Regions from separate parts of the Homo sapiens genome. Here region 1 is linked to region 2. The links come from fine-mapping of genetic effects on gene expression. A gene starts in region 2. The other region holds a variant in brackets. All regions are shown on one strand. Distances are from middle to middle.

Region 1 (10,005 bases), 23 kb before region 2:
AGAGTGCTGATTGGTCTATTTTACAAACCTCTAGCTAGCTACAGAGTGCTGATTGGTGCATTTTGACAGAGCACTGATTGGTACATTTCACAAACCTCTAGCTAGCTACAGAGTGCTGATTGGTGCATTTTACAATCCCCTTGTAAGACAGAAAAGTTCTTCAAGTCCCCACCCGACCCAGAAGTCCAGCTGGCTTCACCTCTCAGTGTGACCAACCTCCAAGCTTTTTTATTTCATTGCTTGGCTTCCCTCTCTACCATGTCCATTTCTGCACATTTATTTCAGCCTCACATTGACCAGCTCCTGCGTGCCAGGCATGGCCTAAGTGTTATTCGAACAAAGCTTCGGAAGCTAGTCCACTTGCTTCTGTCTAGAAGAGGAGGGCGGTGCTGGGAGGAACCTCCCTGACTCCTGCTGCAGACCCACTGAGAGGTGACTCCCACACGGCTGTCCTGGAACAAGACAGCAGCTTTTCTTAGGTTGTTCTAAGTTAAGGGCTCTCACTGCTGGTAAGACAGGGAAATAGAGGAGATAAAAATAACAAAACAAAAGGAGAAGTCACAAAGTTACAGGAAATCTCAATATATCTTTCTGTTCTGGATGCTGCTCCAAACACAACTGCAGCAGGGCCTCTTTGTGGGGGGTTCTTATTTGAGAGCCACAAAGGACCTCAAAGCCAAAACAGACTGATTATCTAGCCCACCTCCATGTCCTCCCCTCCTTCCCCCTACTTCCTTACTAACAGACCCAATTTTGTTCAGGAATCCACCCCCTGCCGAGAAGAAACTGATCCTATTCCCAGCTCAGAGCCAAATCCTGAATCATCCAATATTACCCCCTTGTCAGGAGTAGGTTGAGGGGTGACAAGTGGCCCATGCTTTTTCTGGGGTCAGGGAGAAGAAATGATTATTAGAACAATTTTGGTTTAAACTTTTTTTTTTTTTTTGAAACAGGGTCTCACTCTGTCACCCAGGCTGGAATGCAGTGGTGCGATCTCAGCTCACTGCAGCCTCAACCTCTGCAGCCTCAAGTGATTCTCCCACCTCAGCCTCCTGACTAGCTGTGACTACAGGCCTGTGCCACCATGCCTCGCTAATTTTTGTATTTTTTGTAGAGACAGTGTTTTGCCATGTTGCCCAGGATGGTCTTTCACTTCTGAGCTCAAGCAATCCATCAGCCTTGGCCTCCCAAAGTGCTGGGATTACAGGCATGAGCTACTGCACCCAGCCTAAACTTGTTTCTAATTAGCAGTTCCAAATTTTTAGATGCTCATATCTCTGACTAATTACAATAACAGATGATGAAATATCGAAGTGTTGAACTGTCCTCTCAATTCCAGCCGGAACAAACAGATTCTGTTTTCTCTACATTTTGACTGAACTGTCTTGGTGTCATACATTAGATGGTAAACTTCTCCTCTGTTCCAATCTCCCCCTTCTTCATGGCTAATTAGTTAAAAGCACACTGTTGATAAACACAATATGAATAGAAAAATTTTTGTTTAGCCTTAAAAAATAGCAGTATGACAATTTGTCTTGAATTTTGACCTTTCAGTGGTGGCTTGTATCAAAGTTACGGTCTTGGGATAGTGCTATGACCCGCTGAAATGGCTGCGGGCCTGAAATTTTGATCGTAAGGCAAATTTTGGTACAGAAAATCGCCTGTTTCTGCTGACTTCTGCTTTAGACATCCACTCTTAAGGAAAAGCATTGTTATCCCACCAGCTAACACATCACTCTCTACCATATATCAAAGAGTCTCAAGATCCTTCTATTCATGAAAAATGAAAATATTCTCACCACATCCTCGCAGTAATGTTCAACATAAATTACCAAGCACAGAGACAGTTTGGGAATGTACATTATAAATGGCCTTCCCTACAAGACTAAGAGTGAATCCTAATGTAAACTATAGACTTTGGGTGGTAATAATGTGTTAATGTCGGTTGACAGATTGTAATAAATGCACCGCTGTAATGTGGAATGTTGAAGTGAGGGAAGCTGTAAGTGTATGGAGACAGATAAATGGGAATTCTCTGTACTTTCTGCTCAATTTTACTGTGAACCTAAGACTGCTCAAAAAAGTAGAAGTAAGTAAATACATAAGTCAGTAAATAAATGGCCTTTTCTTGGGCTGAGAAATGAAGACATTTCCTATATGTTACTTGGACCTGTAAATTCACTCTGGGGAGATATATATATATATCAGAAAGTATATGTTACTTGGACCTGTAAATTCACTCTGGGGATGTGTGTGTATATATATATACACATATATATTACATATATATATATACACATATATATTAGAAAGTAAATATTTCTTGTTAAAATCTGAGATATAACTGCCCTCTAAAGGTGTTTATTTCCTGGGTTGGCTTTTTTGTTTTGTTTTGTTTTGTTTATTTGTTTTTGAGGCAGAGTCTCGTTCTGTAGCCCAGGCTGGAGTGCGGTGGCACAGTCTCCACTCACTGCAACCTCCACCTCCTGGGTCCCAGTTCAAGCAATTCTCCTGCCTCAGCCTCCCAAGTAGCTGGGATTACAGGCACATGCCACCATGCTCAGCTAATTTTTGTATTTTTTAGTAGAGACACAGTTTCACCGTGTGGGCCAGGCTGGTCTTGAACTCCTGACCTTGTGATCTGCCTGCCTCGGCCTCCCAAAGTGCTGGGATTAGAGGTGTGAGTGAAAGCACCTGGCCGGGTTGGCTCTTATCTATTTACTTGATAGCCAGGTTTGGAGTCATTAGTGGCTGTTGCTTACTCCTTGAACAAACATTTTTGAGTGTTGTGCTGTACAGGCCACTGGATAGATAGCGATGAATCCCACACAGTCCTGTCCTCAGAGCCCACATCTTCATAGATCTATAAATTAATATTTGCAGTAGAGTATGACAAAAAAACTCCAATAGAAGTGCCTCCAGGGAAGATGGTACCAATTGAACTGGTTGCTGGGGAGGTGTCAGGGGAGGGTTCATGGCAGAAGCCTCATTGAAGGATCTCAGAATTTCATGCCTCCTGGGAGGTTCAGTCCAAGACACCTACCTCCATCTTTCAGTGCAGAGGGCACATGAGGGGACCTGCCAAGATGAAGCCAGAGAGGCAACAGTGGTCAAATGATAGAAGGCCTGGGGCGGGAAGGGGCAGGTAAAGATTTGGGGCTTTATCCAAATGGACTTTATTGTAGTTGTATTCATTTGATACCTTTTGTAAGTTCCTTGTTTAGTTATTACATGATTATCATAAAGTTTGGGAGCATAATGGTTAGAAAGATATCACAGACTTAGGAAAAGGATGCATGTTCCTTTAATTTGGCTCTTTTAATGGACTGAGAGACTATGCAACGCTCATGGCTGGAGGACAAGCTTCCCCGGCCTTCCAGTCCCATAAGGACACCTGCTGTTAATGGCAGTCCTGATGGAGTGTAGATCCCTCGGGCTGCCATCCTCACAAAGGTGTGTTACTTTCTGGCTGGCAGCTCCAGATGGCCCTAGGGACTCTGAACTCAGCCTGTGTCCGAAGGCTTACTGCAAGACTGTGCGACTCCACCATGGTCAGTTTCCCCGGGGAACCATCTCTCTACCAAGCCCAGTTTTCCATTGCAAGAACAATTGCCAAGATGTCTAAGTTTCTATGTGAGAATTTTGGCATCTTGGGTTCCTTTTAAATAGGACACACTTGTATGCTCTAAAGAAAAAAAGAAAAGGTTTCTCATGAAGCATTAGCTTTCAAGATTACAGTTCGGTAGGATGTTCAAGATGCTTAGGGTGAATAAAAATGACAGACAGCTGAACACTTCCTATAAATGAAACACCAATATAGATCTAAGTTTCATGCATGACTCTCAATGTGGTTAATGAAAAGGAAGATAAAAAAAAAAAAGGTTGGCCATATTTGCAGGGCATTTGCTCCCAAATGTTTCAATCCTGTTTTCTTTAGACTTTGAAAAGGGGGATTGCACGTTATCTGTCAAGAAGGCATCAAAGCAGAGAAATCCACAAATGTGTAGTGTCAGATAGAATTCAAGCCTTCAGAAAGGACTCCACTCCTTTGGTTACTAAGAGAACTAGGGGCTTGTATTTCTAAGATGTCACTAGCTGGAGGCGCTGAGCAGGTAATGGTCTATGTTTTCCTAGACTATAAAATCCTGATTATATGGTTTAATAAAATAAGAATCTCAGAGTTCTGATGGAAAACAAGTAAACTTCAGGTCTTAGCAGGCACTAGCAGAAAGCACCAGAGAAAACTGGGGGAGAGGTTAGGACTCCTGTCCCAAAGATCCCCCTCAATTATCCTGCCATGTTATCAGTTCCCTCTTTACATGTTACCAAACATGACTACTAATTTCTATTTTTTTCCAAGACTATTAGATGTATTCAAAATTCACTCTTCTTACAAGGATAGAGAAAAGTGCCTATCGATGCTTAATAACCCAACATATATTTAATAGAAGAATTAAATCACCTTCTGCAAAGGACCAAGAAAAGCTCCATTTGATCAATTCCTTTAAGACATGAAGACTTCTCCTTTTCTAAGAATCGCCATAGTAAAATGCAAGCTCAGCATGACATACCCCAAGGAAAAATGTATCTGTCCCTTCTGCTTTTACTACAGTTCCATAAGGGTAATACCGAGTTGTTTTGCCCACATGGGGGCTCTGGAATCTTGGCTGTGATGCATTGGTAGGATATTTGTCACCAAAACTGACTCAGCAATCAGTTAAATATTAAACAAAGCACTGATTAGTGTTCCTGATTCATATTTGTGCTTTGTTTAACATTTAACTTCCGAATTTTATACATCTATTAAACAATATTCCTCTTGACATTCGAACACTATCTGCACAATTAATAAATCAAAAACTTATTAAAAATTGAAACAATTAAAAATTCCCAAACTTATAAACCATTGTTTACAAAATTATTTAACCACACTCTCCAACACTTTTAAATAAAACCATAAGTTTAATATGTCAGACCCTTTTAAATGTTTCAAACACCTAAAAAGTCAGCAAAAATGCACACAAAACGTCATACTGATTGAAAAATATATATGCACACTTACCTTTACACTGGTTACAAAGGCATGAAGATTATGGGTATATATTGGTTTTAAAAAGTACTTTTATACTTATTCTTATATTTTCTCTGTTACTTTCTTAGAGTCAATGCGATCGTTTCCTAGGATTAGAGTATGAAGTGATACAGTTTCTCCTAAGAATACAAATTTCTTTCAGAACCAAAAGAAAAATAATCTCAGGCCAGCCAGCTCTGGGGTTACTGATTCTTATTTGAAACTGATAAAGTGTCTCCCAACATTATTGCACTTGAGCTTAAATGTGG[C/CCTGA]CTAAGAATATAAAAGTCCGTGCCTTCACATTGGTATCCTTTTCTGAGACCAGAGTGTTTCCTAAAGTGCGCTTCATCTCCTAGGAGACTAGGGATTTTTTTTTTTTTTTTTTGAGACAAAGTCTCGCTCTATCACCCAGGCTAGAGTGCAGTGTTGTGATCTCGGCTCACTGCAGCCTCTGCCTCCTGGGTTCAAGAGATTCTCATGCCACCACGCCTGGTTAATTTTTTGTATTTTTTGTATTTGAGATGGGGTCTCTCCATATTTCACAGGCTGGTCTCAAACTCCCAGGATCAAGTGATCCACCCACCTCAACCTCCCAAACTGCTGGGATTACAGGCGTGAGGCACTGCACCCGGCCAAGACGAGGAATTTAAACCCTGCAGTTTGCTGTCCTTACGAGCACATTTGGCCAATTATCCTTCCATGTTATCAGTTCCCTCTTTACATGTTACCAAGCATGACTACTAATTTCTATTTTTTTCCAGGACTATTAGTTGTATTCAAAATTCACTCTTTCCTTCTTACAAGGATAGAGAAAAGTGCCTATCGATGCTTAATAACCCAACATATATTTAATAGAAGAAATAATATCACCCATATATAAATCTGCCATTAAAAATAATATGAAATAAAACCCTATCGCATTTGCCATTTACATCAACTTTTCTCTTCATAGCTTCATTAGGAACTTACAGCTCTTCACAGACTCCATGTGTTTTAATTGATTATAGCCATCAATCTTATTTGATATTCAAAATCTCAGAGCTTGACCAGAGGAAACCTCTTTAATCTAGCTTCTTAGTCCTTCCAGAACCACCCTGTGATATTCTAGAAAGCATCCTTGCTTTCTGGTTACAAAAGAAACTTCCAGGCTTAAACCATTTGTTTTACCCTACTCAGGACAACCCTTCCAAAGAGCCCCTGTTTCTTTAAGTGGAGAAAACTGTTAGAGACAAAGTCTGGCCATTTAGGGGTACAGGAGAGTTGTGGTGGGCATTAGTACTACTCCTGCTGCTGCTGCTGCTGCTGCTGCTGTGTCCACTGTTAGTGACAGAAGTGGGAAAATATTTAAGTTGAGTTCACATTAGTGTTCCCAGTTTAGCGTGAGCATTGCTCCATTATGTTGTTCTAATGTAAAAATGTCAAACACATTTTTCTCAATGAGATACTTAACATTTTAACCCTTCATCCAAGCTATATGTTACACCTCACTTTTCTATAGTTGTATATTTAGAAAATAAATATTTATGAAATACTTGATATTTCTCATCAATCCTTGGTCACTCAATTGAAGGGTGTAGAAGTAAGGTCAGGTTCACCTTAGTGAGGGGCCTGCATCTAACCTTATCTGAAGGGGCTTATGAATTTGGGATTTATTACCTTGACAGAAAGAAATATTGAGAATGACCCCACCCATGCTTTATAGCAATCGCTCTTTATAGTTTATTTCATAGTGACAAGAAGGAACTCATCCATGGTGGGTTTTTCCCTGAGTGGTCTGTATGGTCATATCAGAACTGAAATCATCCCTTCTTGCTTCTGAGCCCCCGTTTCCAAGTCTTGTTCTTTGTTTCTGTAGGTAGTAAAGTGAATTCTTTAAATCCCTGCCCTCCATCAGCTGCTAAAGCATTCTGCTTCCCTCTGATAAGATTAACAGAATGTTGGCTGTGGTTACGGGATGCTTTGCAGTCTATGTCTTAAACCAAGCCAGCCATGTTAGCATTTCCTCTAGTGGTGGTGTTTTAGGCCAATTGAGAATGTGGGTGATATTAATATTTTCCAACCAGCTGATAACAGGAAAGACACTTCTGCTTGGAGTCCACTTTGAGAAGAGATTTATTATTTAGGCAGCACAGGACACCTCCATTAATCTTCCCCCAGCAGTGCCCATCTACCATCAAGTTCATATACTTTCCCCAGGGTTCAAAGAAGGGTATAATTTTAGCCAGCGATTAGTCAATATTTATCAATAAGAATAATAACAGTAAAATTACAATGGCCAATGTTTGAATCCCTAATGTGTGCCAGGCACAGTACGGGGCCTTTTGCAGCTATTATATCATAAAACCCTTACAACAGCCCCATGAAATTTGCACCATGATTTGCTTCATTTTACTTTTGGGGAAACCACGGATCAAGTAACTGAAGTGATTTCTCTAGGACTCACAGATGAGCGGTGGCAGAGCCTGGAATTAGATATATCTGATGTTAGTGTTTTGAGGAATCACTCTCCCCAAAAGCCATAGCTCCCAGACATTCTTATGTAATTTGTCTTTGCTGAGGCTTGGGTATTGATGATTTAAAAGTCCCCAGAGACCAGATTTCATCTGGTATGCTGTGGGAGTCAAGTAACGTCCAAGGCCAAGCCTGTCTGAGAGAGGTTTTTATTAGCTCCAAAATTATAATAACTTCCACAGCCTTCTTCCACCAATTCTGCCTTCCACTGAAACAGCGCTGGTGATGTTTAGAGGTATGAGTTTGGGACAATTATCAGGAGAAGCATTTTGGTGCTATTGTCCCACCCCTTCTGTCCTGAGAGGTTTTATCTGGTCTTTCAGTATTTCAAATAGGTCATGACTAGATTCCATGCATCCCTAGAAAACATAGCCTAAATTTTAAATTAAAGTATGAGGTGGAAGAAACAGCCTTTCTTCCCTTTTGTTTCCAAGGACAGATGGAGTCAAAAGTGGAACTGGGGCCCGCAGAGCCGGATAGCTTGGGCAGTACGTGTGTGCACCTGCAGGCTGTGGAGACAGGTATTTCCATGGAGCTCACTCGCCCTGCCTCTCATCCAGGCCTGAAAATCATAGGTAACTATGAGGCAAGAGGAACCCAGGGTGGTGGGAACACCCTAGGGTGATCCCAGGCTGGGGACCTTTGGACTAAAAAGATGAAAGCCAACATTCCCTCCCCAGGAGGAGATGCAACTCCTGCACTCTCTAGTGACCATCACTGGGATATTGCACAGATCTGCAGTCACCTTCTAAATCCCCTTAAAGTGGACCTAGCCATCCTCTCCATTTTAAGACCACATCTCCTGTCTGCTACAGCCCCTCTCGCTTCTTTTTCTTTAAGGATATCTGGCTGGTTGTATTGGGTTAACATGCAAGAAGAGAGTACCAATCACTCCATAACTTGGGTAATGCATGTCAATGGTGATCTGTGTGGGGCCGCAAGGTTCCAGATGGTTGGGACAACTCTACAATCAGTCACATTTGGGTTGGTTAAATCCCCCACTCATCTTTACAGCTGTATCCTGCAAGTTAGTGGCTGCCTGTCTCTGAACTTCACCTTCCTTATGGTTGTCAAAAATACCTCCATGGGATAAAAACGCAGCATCTGTAGATTCCCAAATAGGTGCAAGTAGATTCCCAAATAGGTGCAAATAGGTTCATTCGTTGGTTCATTCTGCAGTCAGGGAGCTTTCAGTCTACTGGCATGCAAGACGCAATGATAATGAGAATACTTCACAATGAGTGTGACGTGATGACTGATGAATGTGACAAAGGAGAAGTAGGATGCACTTAGACAGCCTGGGGGAATTGAGTTGTGGCCAGAAGGGAGAGAGAGTGTCCATTCTCCACCTCATCACTTTGCTGCCAAGAGAAACAGGAATTTCTTAGACAAGTTCTCAGGTCCCTCGGTGAGACTGGCAGCCTAAAAAAGGCACCAGGGAGCAGGGGGCACTCACATCATGCCATCCCCCCACAGAGCATCCCGCTGGCCATCTGCATCAGCCCGACCCCCACAGGATAGAAGACTGGCACATCCAAGTTGCTCCTTCCACACCCTCTCCCCACTGAGGCCTCGTCTCCTCCGCCCTGTGGCCAATTGAAGGTGAACTCCTAACGTGCATTCTGCCTGGGATCCCAGAGGTTGTGGCAGCCAGATGAGTCACCTCACAAATACAGCACGTGTTCCTCGGGGGCGGCGGTGGGAGGAAACACGTGAAGAGCTCTCTCTGTGATAATAGACCATTTAGAGCTTCAGATGGCGAAAACAAGCTGATCAGGTGCAGGCCCTCCAGGAGGCTGGCAGGTGACTCCCAGCCAGCACGCCCTCCATCGCACGTTGGGGAAGCTGGAAAGAGCCTGGTGGCTGCCGGGCCTCCCTCTGGCATCCTCTCTCCCTCCAAGGCTGTGTGCTCCCCACCTTGTCTCTCCTTTTTTCATTCCATTGCTCTGTTCTGTTTCTGTCTACCCATTCGTCTTTTCTTCCTCTTCTCTTTCTGTTGCCATTCTCTTTCTCTTCTCCTCTCAACATGTCCTTCTCTCTACCCGTTTCCCCCTCCCCTTCTCTCTCTCCTCCCTCTTTCCCTCTCCCTCTCTTCCTTTCCCAAATCTCTCTTAGCCAGGCTCCTTTTCGCCCTTTGCCTCTCAAACCCTCCTCCACCTTTCCACCCTCTCTCTGCGTTCTGCTTCTCCCTTCTTCCTTCCGTGTCTCTGGCTCACTTATCTGCCCTCTCCACATCTTCTTCCATTTGCCACCCTCCCTCTCTGTAGCCACACCCAGTGGGCTCAGAGCTGGGTCTTTCTTTTTTTTGTTTTTTCTTTTTTCTTTTTTTTTTTTTTTGAGATGGAGTTTCACTCTTGTTGCCCAGGCTGGAGTGCAGTGGCGCAATCTCCACTCACTGCAATCTCTGCCTCCTAGTTTCAAGCAAT
Region 2 (10,005 bases):
CTTGATGCATAAGGATGCAGCCAGGGAGAGCTGCCTCCCAAACCCAAGTCCTATTCAAAGGTCTTTTCTTCCTCCTGGGGAGGTAGGGGAGAAGGTCCAAGCAAAGGGAACTGGAAGGGGAAAGTGAGGCATGGAGTTTGTGTTTTCTGAATCAGGACTGTGTTCCAGCCAGGGAGACCCTGTGTCAGGCACTTTTGTAATCACGATCACTTTCAGCCTCACCCTGCGACCTCCAACGACATTGCTGAGATTGTTCTCCTTGCAAACATGAGGAAATTGAGGGGCTCAAAGGTCAAATAACTTGCCCAAAGTCACAAAACAAATCCGGGACTTTAAGCCTGATCTGCTTGACCTGAAACTCATATCTACTTCCCTGCCCTCTGAAGATCTATATGTCCTATGTCATCACTTCACTGTTCACACAAGGTGATACCTGGCTTCTCCAAGCACCTGCTACCCTGAACTTACTGCACCACTCTTTCCTTCCTAGCCTGAATGCAATTTGCAATGAGGAGATGATTTGATTTTCTTCAGCCCTAGACCTCCAGCTTCCTGAGAGCAGGTACTCTTGCCTCTTCTTGCTCATTATTGATCCATATATTTAGAATAGCGCCTGGCAGGTAGATGGTGCTTAATAAATATTCATTGAATAAATGAATGAATGAATGATCCAATGAGCCCCAAAGCAAATAACAATAAAGGACATTTGCAGAGTGCTCTACAGAGAGACAAGTGCTTTCCCTTTACTTTATCTTACCCCATTCTCACAACAATCCCCTGACATGATTGGGTTCATGTTTCACAGATGAGGAGGCTAACGGCCAGGTGTACATACCAGGGGACATGGGACTGGGTTCATATGAGCTCAGGGGTAAATGATGACACCCTTTCCCCTGCCCTGAAGGATCTCAGTTTGAGTATTTGTAGCACACTTAGGATGTTCTGGGCCAGGCTGAGTGGCGGTGGATGGGGGCGGTGGAGGTGGGGTATGCAAAGCAGGAAACTCGGCCTTTGCTTTCTAAAAGCTCCCAGTCTATTTGAGGCCAGACTTATGCATGCAGAACATTTGGGAAATGGTACAAGACAGCAGCAAGCATAGTGCTGAATTGCACATAATCAGGTGCCAACTGCATTCCCTTCCTTAACTAATCTGAGTCTTTTAATACCAGATGGGGACCCTGAGAATAGATTTCCTATCAAACAGATGAAGAGCAAAGATGGGAGCCGAGGGAAATGCTGTGGCTTACTCATTTTTATACCCCTGTAACCCAGCATGATGTCTGGCCCACAGCAACAGGAATAGGGCAGTCCACCTTCAATAATGGGCCACTCTATGTGCCAGGCACCTGCTAAGGGCCCCACAAACATCATGTCACCAATCCCTCACAGCAACACTACCACTTACTAAAGGAATTATGAAAGTAATCCACAAGAAGCTGAAAGCAGGGTTCAGAGATCGTACTCATCATGCCCACAGTCTCAGAGTAAAGGGGCAAGCTCAGTGTTTGAACCCAATTCTAGCAGCCTCCCAAATTAATGCTCTCAATCTGACTCTATGCTACCTCTGTGCCTGGAAGGAACTACTGTTGTCCATAAGGATGAGAAGAAACATGGCTAAGGGAGCACTGAGTAGGGAGGAAGGAGGCAGCAGGGAGGAAGAAATAAATTAAGAAAGAAAGAGATACAAAGAGGAAGAAAGGAGAGGGGGAGGGAGGGAAAGAACAGGGCTTGTGTGTTACATAAACTCAGACAAGCACATGCATGTTTTAACAGGATTCCTGCAGGTCTGACAATCTCACTCCTTCCTCCCTGAACAACCTTAGAGGGGTTGCCTAAGGAGTCCTATATAGAGGCTTATGGCAGAAGGAAGGCCTTGCGTCCAGAACTTTCTGAGCTCATGGATTGACACTGGGGTTGCGCATCAGTCTGCTTGGAATGCCTTCAAAAAATACCCCAGTCTGGGTGGCTTATACAACAGAAATCTATTTTCTCATGGTTCTGAAAACTGGAAGTCCAAGATCAAGGTGCCAGCAGGGTTGGTGTCTGGTGAGGCCTCTCACCTTGTGTTGCAACTGCCTTTTCCCTGTGTGCTCACATGGTATCTTTGTGCGTGGGGGGTCTTTGGAGTCTCTCCTTGTAAGGACACTAACTCTATCAGATCAGGGCCCCACCCTTATGACCTCTTTTAACCTTCATTAGTTCCTTAGAGGTCCCTTCTTCAAATACAGCCATACAGGGGCTTAGAGCTTCAACACAGGGATTTTGGAGGGACACAAACATTCAGTCCACACCGGGGTGCATGAGGGAGGGGTCAGAGCTGGAGAAAGTGCATGAGCTAGTTCACCTTCCAGAGTAAAGGGAGCAACAGCCACTGAAGCTCAGGTTGGATGGGGCTGGCAAGGTCGCTGTATTGAGTACATCATGGGAGGGACAACAGGACAAATGGCTCCTGCAGTCAGGGTGACTGATGGGAGGCTTCTTCAGCACTCCCTCTGCACATTCATTTTGTCACTCCCTCTCTCCCCATGCAGTTCTTTGCTCTCTGTTGCAAGTTCCCAGGAGGCAGGCAGAGGGCCTGTTATCATCATCTTTCTCTCTTGCCCCTCACACTTACCTGTGTTCTTCTACTTAGACACATTCTTTGTGAGCATCTCATGGGTGATGTTGGCTGCATTGTACAGTGGGCACGTGCGTATGTGTGTGTATTTATCTGCAAATAATACCCATGTCACAAGGCGTCCGCAGGAATAAATGAGCTATTGTGCATGTAAATATCTGGTACATGGTAGATACATGAATGAATGAATATTTGTTGAATAAATAAGTGAATGAATGAATCTTCACTTGGCAGAGCATGTGTCTTCCTTTAAGGGGCAAGGATGATCTGGTAATCATCAGTTTCTGCTTACTAACTGGGTCACTGAGCAAAGAAAAGAGACTCACTCATTCATTTATTCAGCATAGGTTGGCTGCACCCCTGTCAGAAACCGGAGGTTAAGCAGAAAGTAGAGAGTTAAATCAGTATGTAAAGCAGTTAAAACAGTCCAGAGGGAGAGACAGGCAAGGAAAGGAACAATGAGAAACAAAGTAAGGAGTGCTCTGATAAGAAGCCCTGGGTGCTATGGAAACCACAAGCAGGGCACCGACTCAGGGCCAGGGAGGGATCCCTGGAGGAGATGACATCTGCAGTAGATATTCCAGGGTAAGCAGCAGGTGGCCAGAAGGAGAAAGAGGTGAGGAACATTCCAGGCAAGGGGAACAGCACGTGCAAAGGCCCTGAAGGAGAACCACAACACGCATCTGAGAAATAGTGAGGGGTCTGGGTGGCTGAGCCACAAAGGGAACACCAGGGGTCAGGGAGGATTTGTAGAAGAAGCCACAGGCCACAAAAAAGACCTCATAATTCATGTTCAATGGTTTGGATTTTATTTTGGTGACTTCACTTTATACCTACTGTTCAGAGGCAGCCAATTGCAAACACGTCCAGAAGCACTTTGCTATTTCTGATCTGCAAAATGGAGCAAGTCATCTGTACTCTGCTTCTTCAGTGGGTTGTGGGGAAGCAGAAATGAGAGGATGACATTCTAGCCTTTTGTGACCTCTCAAGTGCTGTCCTTATGGTCATTCAGGTACCATGAAAATTAGCAGAGCCCCAAGGGGGAAGTAGCTTGGTGCTCACCCAGTGGTATCCCTGACAAGTTGGCAAAGACACCCAGGGTGGCTTAACTTTCTCCTCAGCAAAGAGCTCTCCTCTGTTCCCTGAATCCTGGATATCCCACTGGGTCCTCTAGTGACCCCAAGCTTCAGCCTCGCATGCCCTCTTCTCGAACAGAGAAGGCAGGAGGGAAGCAGGGACCAGCCCCTGCTCCATCTTCCAGGATTCCAGGCCTCCCTGGCCTGGACAAGCCCTGAGCTGGCAGTTAGGAGAGCAGAGGTTGTGAATCTGGTGGGACCCCCAGCAGGTCTTTCTGGCTCAGTGCCCTCATCTGTGAGCAGGGGTTCCCCAGGAGACCACGACAGAGGCCTGGAACCCAAGTTCTAATCCCACATCCTGGCTGGGCAACTTCAGGCAAATTTCTAACACAAGGTAAGCCTCAATTTCTCTCTGGGGTAATGATCAGGCACCTGCTTAATTCACAGGGGTTTGGTGGGCATCACGTGGACAATGTGGTTGCACAGCAGTGGGCAATGCAAAGGAAAGGAAGTATGTTAGTAAGTGCCCCTCCCCTGTTGCACAAAACAGGACACATGCTGGGATTGCAGAAAAGCAATAAATGCTGCACAGGTGAAGAAAACTATTCAAGGACCCTGGCCAAGTCACAGGCTACCTGTGGCCCTGAGGGGACAGCTCATGGGTTGGCATTAGGGGAAGCAGCTCTCAAGGGGCCTGTATCCTGGGGATTCAACTCTGTGCCTATGTGGCATTGAGCCTGTGTGAATGTGGTGACTGTCATGCTGTTTTGCTGTGTGTGCGTCTGCATGCCTGTGTGTTTGTGTGTCTCTCCACCTTCGTGGGGGGCAACTGTAGGTGTATTATGAGCCTTGGGTCTGTCTGTGTGTACAATAGCAATGTCTGTGCGGACTTAAGGACCTGCGCCCATATGTTTGTGGGACTTTCTGGGCATGCATGCTTGTTTATGAGGCCATACATCCGGGTATTCTGTGAACTGCTAGCATGGTGTGTATCTGTGTGGCAGACAGAAAATGGCTGGGTGGGATTGTAGGGGGCAGCTTGGGCAAAGGATCCTCAGTGTCAATCAAAATGGGTCTCAGTGGGAACCCAAGCAGCTCAGACTTGGGGGAGGGGAAGCTCTTCCTCCACCTTCCAGGGAGCAAACCTTGCAATTCAACACCACAAGGCTTTGAGTCCACAGGCAGGGACGCAAACTTTGCCCATTGGGTGAGACGCCACTCACAGAAGGGAAATGGCTTCCTAAATCTAATCATTGCCCCTTCAAGCACTAACAACCCGTGCCCAGGAGCTGATGGCTAATGAATTATTGAGCTGGAAAGGGAGAAGAGGTAGAACCAAGGAGGAAAGAAACAGAAAAATGAGAGAGCAGGCCGGGTGGGGTGGCTCTCGCCTGTAATCTCAGCACTTTGGGAGGCCAAGGCGGGTGGATCACCTGAGGTCAGGAGTTCAAGCCCAGCCAGCCCAACATGGCGAAACCCCGTCTCTATTAAAAAATACAAAAAAATTTAGCTGGGCCTAGTGGTGGGCGCCTGTAATCCCAGCTACTCCGGAGGCTGAGGCAGGAGAATCGCTTGAATCTGGGAGGCAGAGGTTGCAGTGAGCAGAGATCGCACCACTGCACTCCAGCCTGGGCAACAGAGCGAGACTCCGTCTCAAAAAAAAAAAAAAAAGAAAAAGAAAAATGAGAGTGTAAGGGCCCAGAGGGGCTGAGGGCTCCTTTCTCCTCCCCAACTCCCTGTCACTAGAAGGTGGGCCCTGCCATAGGAGGATTCTGCAGAACCCTCAAGGACCCGCGGAGCAGGACGGCACCTTCTTCCCATGACCACCCATTTGGATGTGTTTTTCACCCCTTTCTGGGTGGGGCAGACTTTCCCCCTCCCCATGAGTTCAGGCAGTGGGTTAAATAAGATTTCCCTTGAAGTCGAATGAAATCACAATGCACCACACACAGGGACACACACACACACACACGCACGCACGCACATCACACACACACACACACACACACACACACACACACACACATACACACACACAGTCTCCCTGGGGCCAATCTACTGCCCCCTGAACCTCACCCATCAGCCAGGTGCCTGGCCCCGGGTCTGTCTCTTAGGGTTACATGCTCCCGGGGCTCCCGCACATACCCCGGCAGATGAGGGTGCGCAGGGGTGAGGGCGCAGGGCTGGGCGTCCCCCGCCCCCACCGTGCAGCCCTCGCCCCCGCCCCGCCCCTCCGTAGTTGCCCGCCCGCCGCCCCCTCCGCCGCCCCCTCCGCCGCTCCGACTCTCGCCCCGAGCGCTGGCAGCAGGCAGCAGGCAGCAGGCGGGCGCGCTGTGGCTCCGCGCCGCGCGGTCCGGGCTCTGTTCATTCATGATTGGTACTCGGCCCTCCGAGACCCAGCCCGAGCGCAGGGAGGGGAGCCGAGTGTGCGGCAGGAGGGGCGGGCGGACGGCGGCTCCCGCACCGCACGCGGCGCTGGCTCGGCAGCCTCGGCCGGGCGGCCGCTCTGGCCCCGTGTCCAGTGCCAGGCAGGCTTCAGGGCACCGTCCTCGGCCCTGGGCGAGGGAACCGCCGGGCCGGGTCCTCGCGCGGGGAAGCGGTTCCGAAGGCTCGCGGGGAGCGGCTAGCCCTGAGTCCCTGCATGTGCGGGGCTGAAGAAGGAAGCCAGAAGCCTCCTAGCCTCGCCTCCACGCTTGCTGAATACCAAGCTGCAGGCGAGCTGCCGGGCGCTTTTCTCTCCTCCAATTCAGAGTAGACAAACCACGGGGATTTCTTTCCAGGGTAGGGGAGGGGCCGGGCCCGGGGTCCCAACTCGCACTCAAGTCTTCGCTGCCATGGGGGCCGTCATGGGCACCTTCTCATCTCTGCAAACCAAACAAAGGCGACCCTCGAAAGGTAAGCCACCTTCTTCCTTTTGTTCCCCTGTCTGGGCTTGGGGGTGCTAGGCGCCGAGGTGGGCTGTGCCACCTGCCTCCCTTAGTCCGGACTCTCCTCTCCACGAGGAGCCCGGACAGGTGCTTGTATCCAAAGGAGAGAGAAATCGGCGGGAGGGCTGGTGTGAACACCCAGAGGAGGGAGCCGGAGTGGACGTCTGCCCCAGCGGCAACTGGACCCCTCTGGGGCACCAGGTGTCGGGACTCTCCTCCTGGGGAAATCTCTGAGAGCCGAAGGAAGCGGCATGTTCACAGGTGGGGGTGACCGGATTCTCTGGTGGAAGTGTGGTGAAGCTCTTCCCATTCCCATGACAGCTGGCGTTTGAGCACTCAGTGAGGGTGCTGCCACACTCCCACACTCCTCCTAGGCGGCTATGCCAGGTGCAGACCTGCGAGTCCCTTCATCAGGAAGAGTGCTCTGTCTGCACCCCCAAAACCTCTGCAAGCCAAAAGGAATCAGCTGCTGCCAGGGGTAAAACTCCCAGGCCTCATGTCCTGGTGGCTCCGGGAGTCAGGAGGAGCAACCGTGAAGGGCTGGCTGCGAGCTGAGCTTACATCAAGGATTAAAAAGCATAATATCGTGGAGTCTCTTCTGCCTGGACGCTGTTCCTTCACCACCTGTCCCCAGCCGAGGCATGGCTGATCTCACCATCCGTGGGAGAGTCCTCAAATGGGTCCAGGTGAAGTTGGAACCAGTGTGTTGGGCCCTGGAGGACAATGCAGGTCTCCTTACCAGCAGTTCAAAAGTTAGTGGTTGGAATAAAGAGACTGGAAGCAGTTAGGAAACGGGAAATGATGGGTTTTGTTTTGTTTAATGTTCAAATGTCACTACGAGTGGTAAGATTTTAAGCAGCTTGACACTTAAACATTCAAATTCTACCATCAGAGCCCCCATCCTGGATACAGGTGGGAGTTAAGCTCCTACCCTACAGGCCTGATAGTGAGTAGAAGTGTAATGGGGTAAGGGACCCCAAGTGAACAATAAGTCTCCTCTTAGAACTTGGTTGGTCTCACCCTGTTTAGAACCACAGAGATCTCCATAAGTAAGCTGTCCTTGAAACCCCCTGGAAGAAGGGGTCCCAGCTTCTGGCCCAGCTCCCAGGGGCATCAGGCTGGCTGAGCCCCGAGGAAAGAGATCTCTGGGTGCAGATCTTAGGTGCTGAAGCTGGGTTGGCATTTACATCCTAGAACATAGGAAGAGGCTTTGGCCCATTTGTCCAGCTGAGTTACATGTCCTGCTGGCAAGGAAGGGACTGGTTGTCCTGTTACCAGTCCTGACCAGAACAGGTCTGCAAAGCTCAGCCCAAGGCCTTGACATTCTAAGCCTCACCTCTCACAGATCCTGGGATGCTGCTTGACTGGGGACAATTTTCAGCGCCAAATATAGGTCTTCTCCCTCATCATCTGTCTGACCACCATGCGGTCTCAGAGGCCAGGGGACTGTGGGGACAGGAAAGTCAGGGGCTTGTTTTTAAATATTTTCAATGCCTGTGGCTCTCCTGGGAGCTGGGTGTCACAGAAAGATCTCAAGCCCTAGAGTCAAGTGGAGTCTGGGTGTGAATCCCAGCTCCATCACTCCCTGCCTCTGGGACCTTAGGAAAGTCCCCCGCACCTCCCTAAGCCTCAGTTTTTCATCCATGAAATTCGTATGCTACTTCCCGGAGGGAAGGGTATGTAGGAAGTAGAGGAAGGGAAGACTCTGCCTCATATACTGTGTTGGCTGCAGCCACCAGGGACCCAGAGGAAGTTGTTGTAAGGATGTGAGAATCAAATGAATGATGAATAGGGAGCTCCGTGCATAGGGCTGGGAAAAGAGTAAGAGCTCAGACATTGCTGTCTACCATTTCCTTCTCCTGCCCCAAACATCCAGGAATTCACCCTGGATGAATTCCTGCAGGATTCCCAGAGTACAAAGGTCTTTGCTTCTGTCTCCTCGGATTCTAAGAAACAGAAGAGGGGGTACTGGCATTCAGTGTGTCCCTACTGTGTGCTTGCCATAATGCTCGGTGTTTTATCAACAACTCTCATTTAACCCTCACAACAATGTTCGTTTGAGGCTCATAGCAGGTTCGGGGCCAATGGGTGGACTCCCAAGACAAGCTATCGAAGCACTGGGCACTCAGCCCTTCCTGCACAAAGCCCACTGGCGTGAGTTGTCCAGGGGTCCAGCTGCATATGTTCCCCCAGGTATTTGCCCCCGAAGCACAGTCATCTCACTGCCTTGCATAGTGGAATGCTAATCAGCAGAAGACCCTTCTATGGGAGGCAGCTTGGAAACCTGGAGGAAGCCCTGGCTGAGGAGGCTAGTGGTCAGGGAGCCTATCCTGGCCAGGTCACTTTTCCCCACTGGGGCCTCGGTTTCTTCTTTGTAAAGGGAGAAACTTACATTAGGCATTTCCTCAGGTTCCATTTGGTTCTCAAATTCTAATATTTTTATGGTTGATGCTCTCACCAGAGCTGCTGCTATGATCTCAGAGACGTGAGGCTCAGATCTAATTAGAAGCAACCGGAAGAGAGCAGTTGGGATTTTTCAACTCAGGAATCAGTCTCCCTGCTGGGTTCAAATTCAGGCTCTGCCACTTACTAGCTGTATGACTAAGCCTTGTTTTCCTCAACTATAAAACAGAGATAGTAGTAGTTACCATCTTAAAATAGCTGTTGTGTTGTGTGGATTTCAAGGATCATGCAAGTCAAGCATTTAGCACAGTCTCTGCTACATAAGTGGTCAGCAAATTTGAGGTACTATTCAATTTATGGCTCTATTGTTTGGGGCTTCCAAATGTCCAGAGTAAGGCCATTTTCGAAGTAGGCAGTACATCTGAGAGCCTTAACAGCTCATTTCTGGAAACCTTATCCAGCCCTATCCAGATAACTAGGACCAAAAACCCCAGCACACAGATGCTCGTCCCTTGCTTCAACCCTCACTGACCTCTACTCTGTGGCTTGTCCTGAAAACATCAAAGCCTGCTCAATTAAAATCCTGAATGCCTTGATAATACAATTTAGAAACATACATAGTTTTTAAATAGGGCAAAAACTCTGCATGATTAGTGCTGCAAGAAGATATCCAGCCCAACCTGGGTGTTCAGGGAGCGCTCTCTAAAGGCAACAGAAATCTAAAGTAATTTAAGAGCCATGCCACTGAATAAAAATATTCAGGTTCATTTCCTGTCCTTCTCTCTGTTTGGGATCTTTGTGTGTCTTTAATTAAAAGTAGGAGAGCCCTGCTTTTGGGATTCAGCCTCTGCATCCCAGTCCCAGATAGAATTTCTGACTCTAGCAGTTTTGCATGTGCATGACACACCAAGGACACTGCTCCTGGCCTTGAATGGGTAAGTGAGACAGGCTAGGGCATTGAGGAGAACCAGAGGAGGACCAT

Alleles and levels. Alleles are on the strand shown, and positions count from the first base shown. SD is a standard deviation of normalised expression in the study named.
With allele CCTGA in place of C in region 1, the expression in amygdala of the gene that starts at base 5,975 in region 2 is higher (moderate effect, 0.42 SD a copy in GTEx).

The links. PIP is the estimated chance that this variant, and not a neighbour inherited with it, causes the effect.
Region 1: its variant is the best candidate, but not a certain one, in a credible set for the expression of KCNIP1 in amygdala (GTEx, PIP 0.57).

What each region holds. Positions count from the first base shown.
Region 1 is chr5:170,475,042-170,485,046 of GRCh38, forward strand. It overlaps a transcript of KCNIP1 not described here. Among named protein-coding and RNA genes, the nearest start is that of KCNIP1, 24 kb to the right of the region's middle. RefSeq lists an enhancer at 9,929-10,005. The variant C/CCTGA (reference allele first, on the strand shown) is at 5,341.
Region 2 is chr5:170,498,046-170,508,050 of GRCh38, forward strand. It overlaps KCNIP1 (potassium voltage-gated channel interacting protein 1), which reads left to right and starts at 5,975. Exons shown (of 8, transcript NM_014592.4): 1 at 5,975-6,588. The coding sequence starts at 6,528.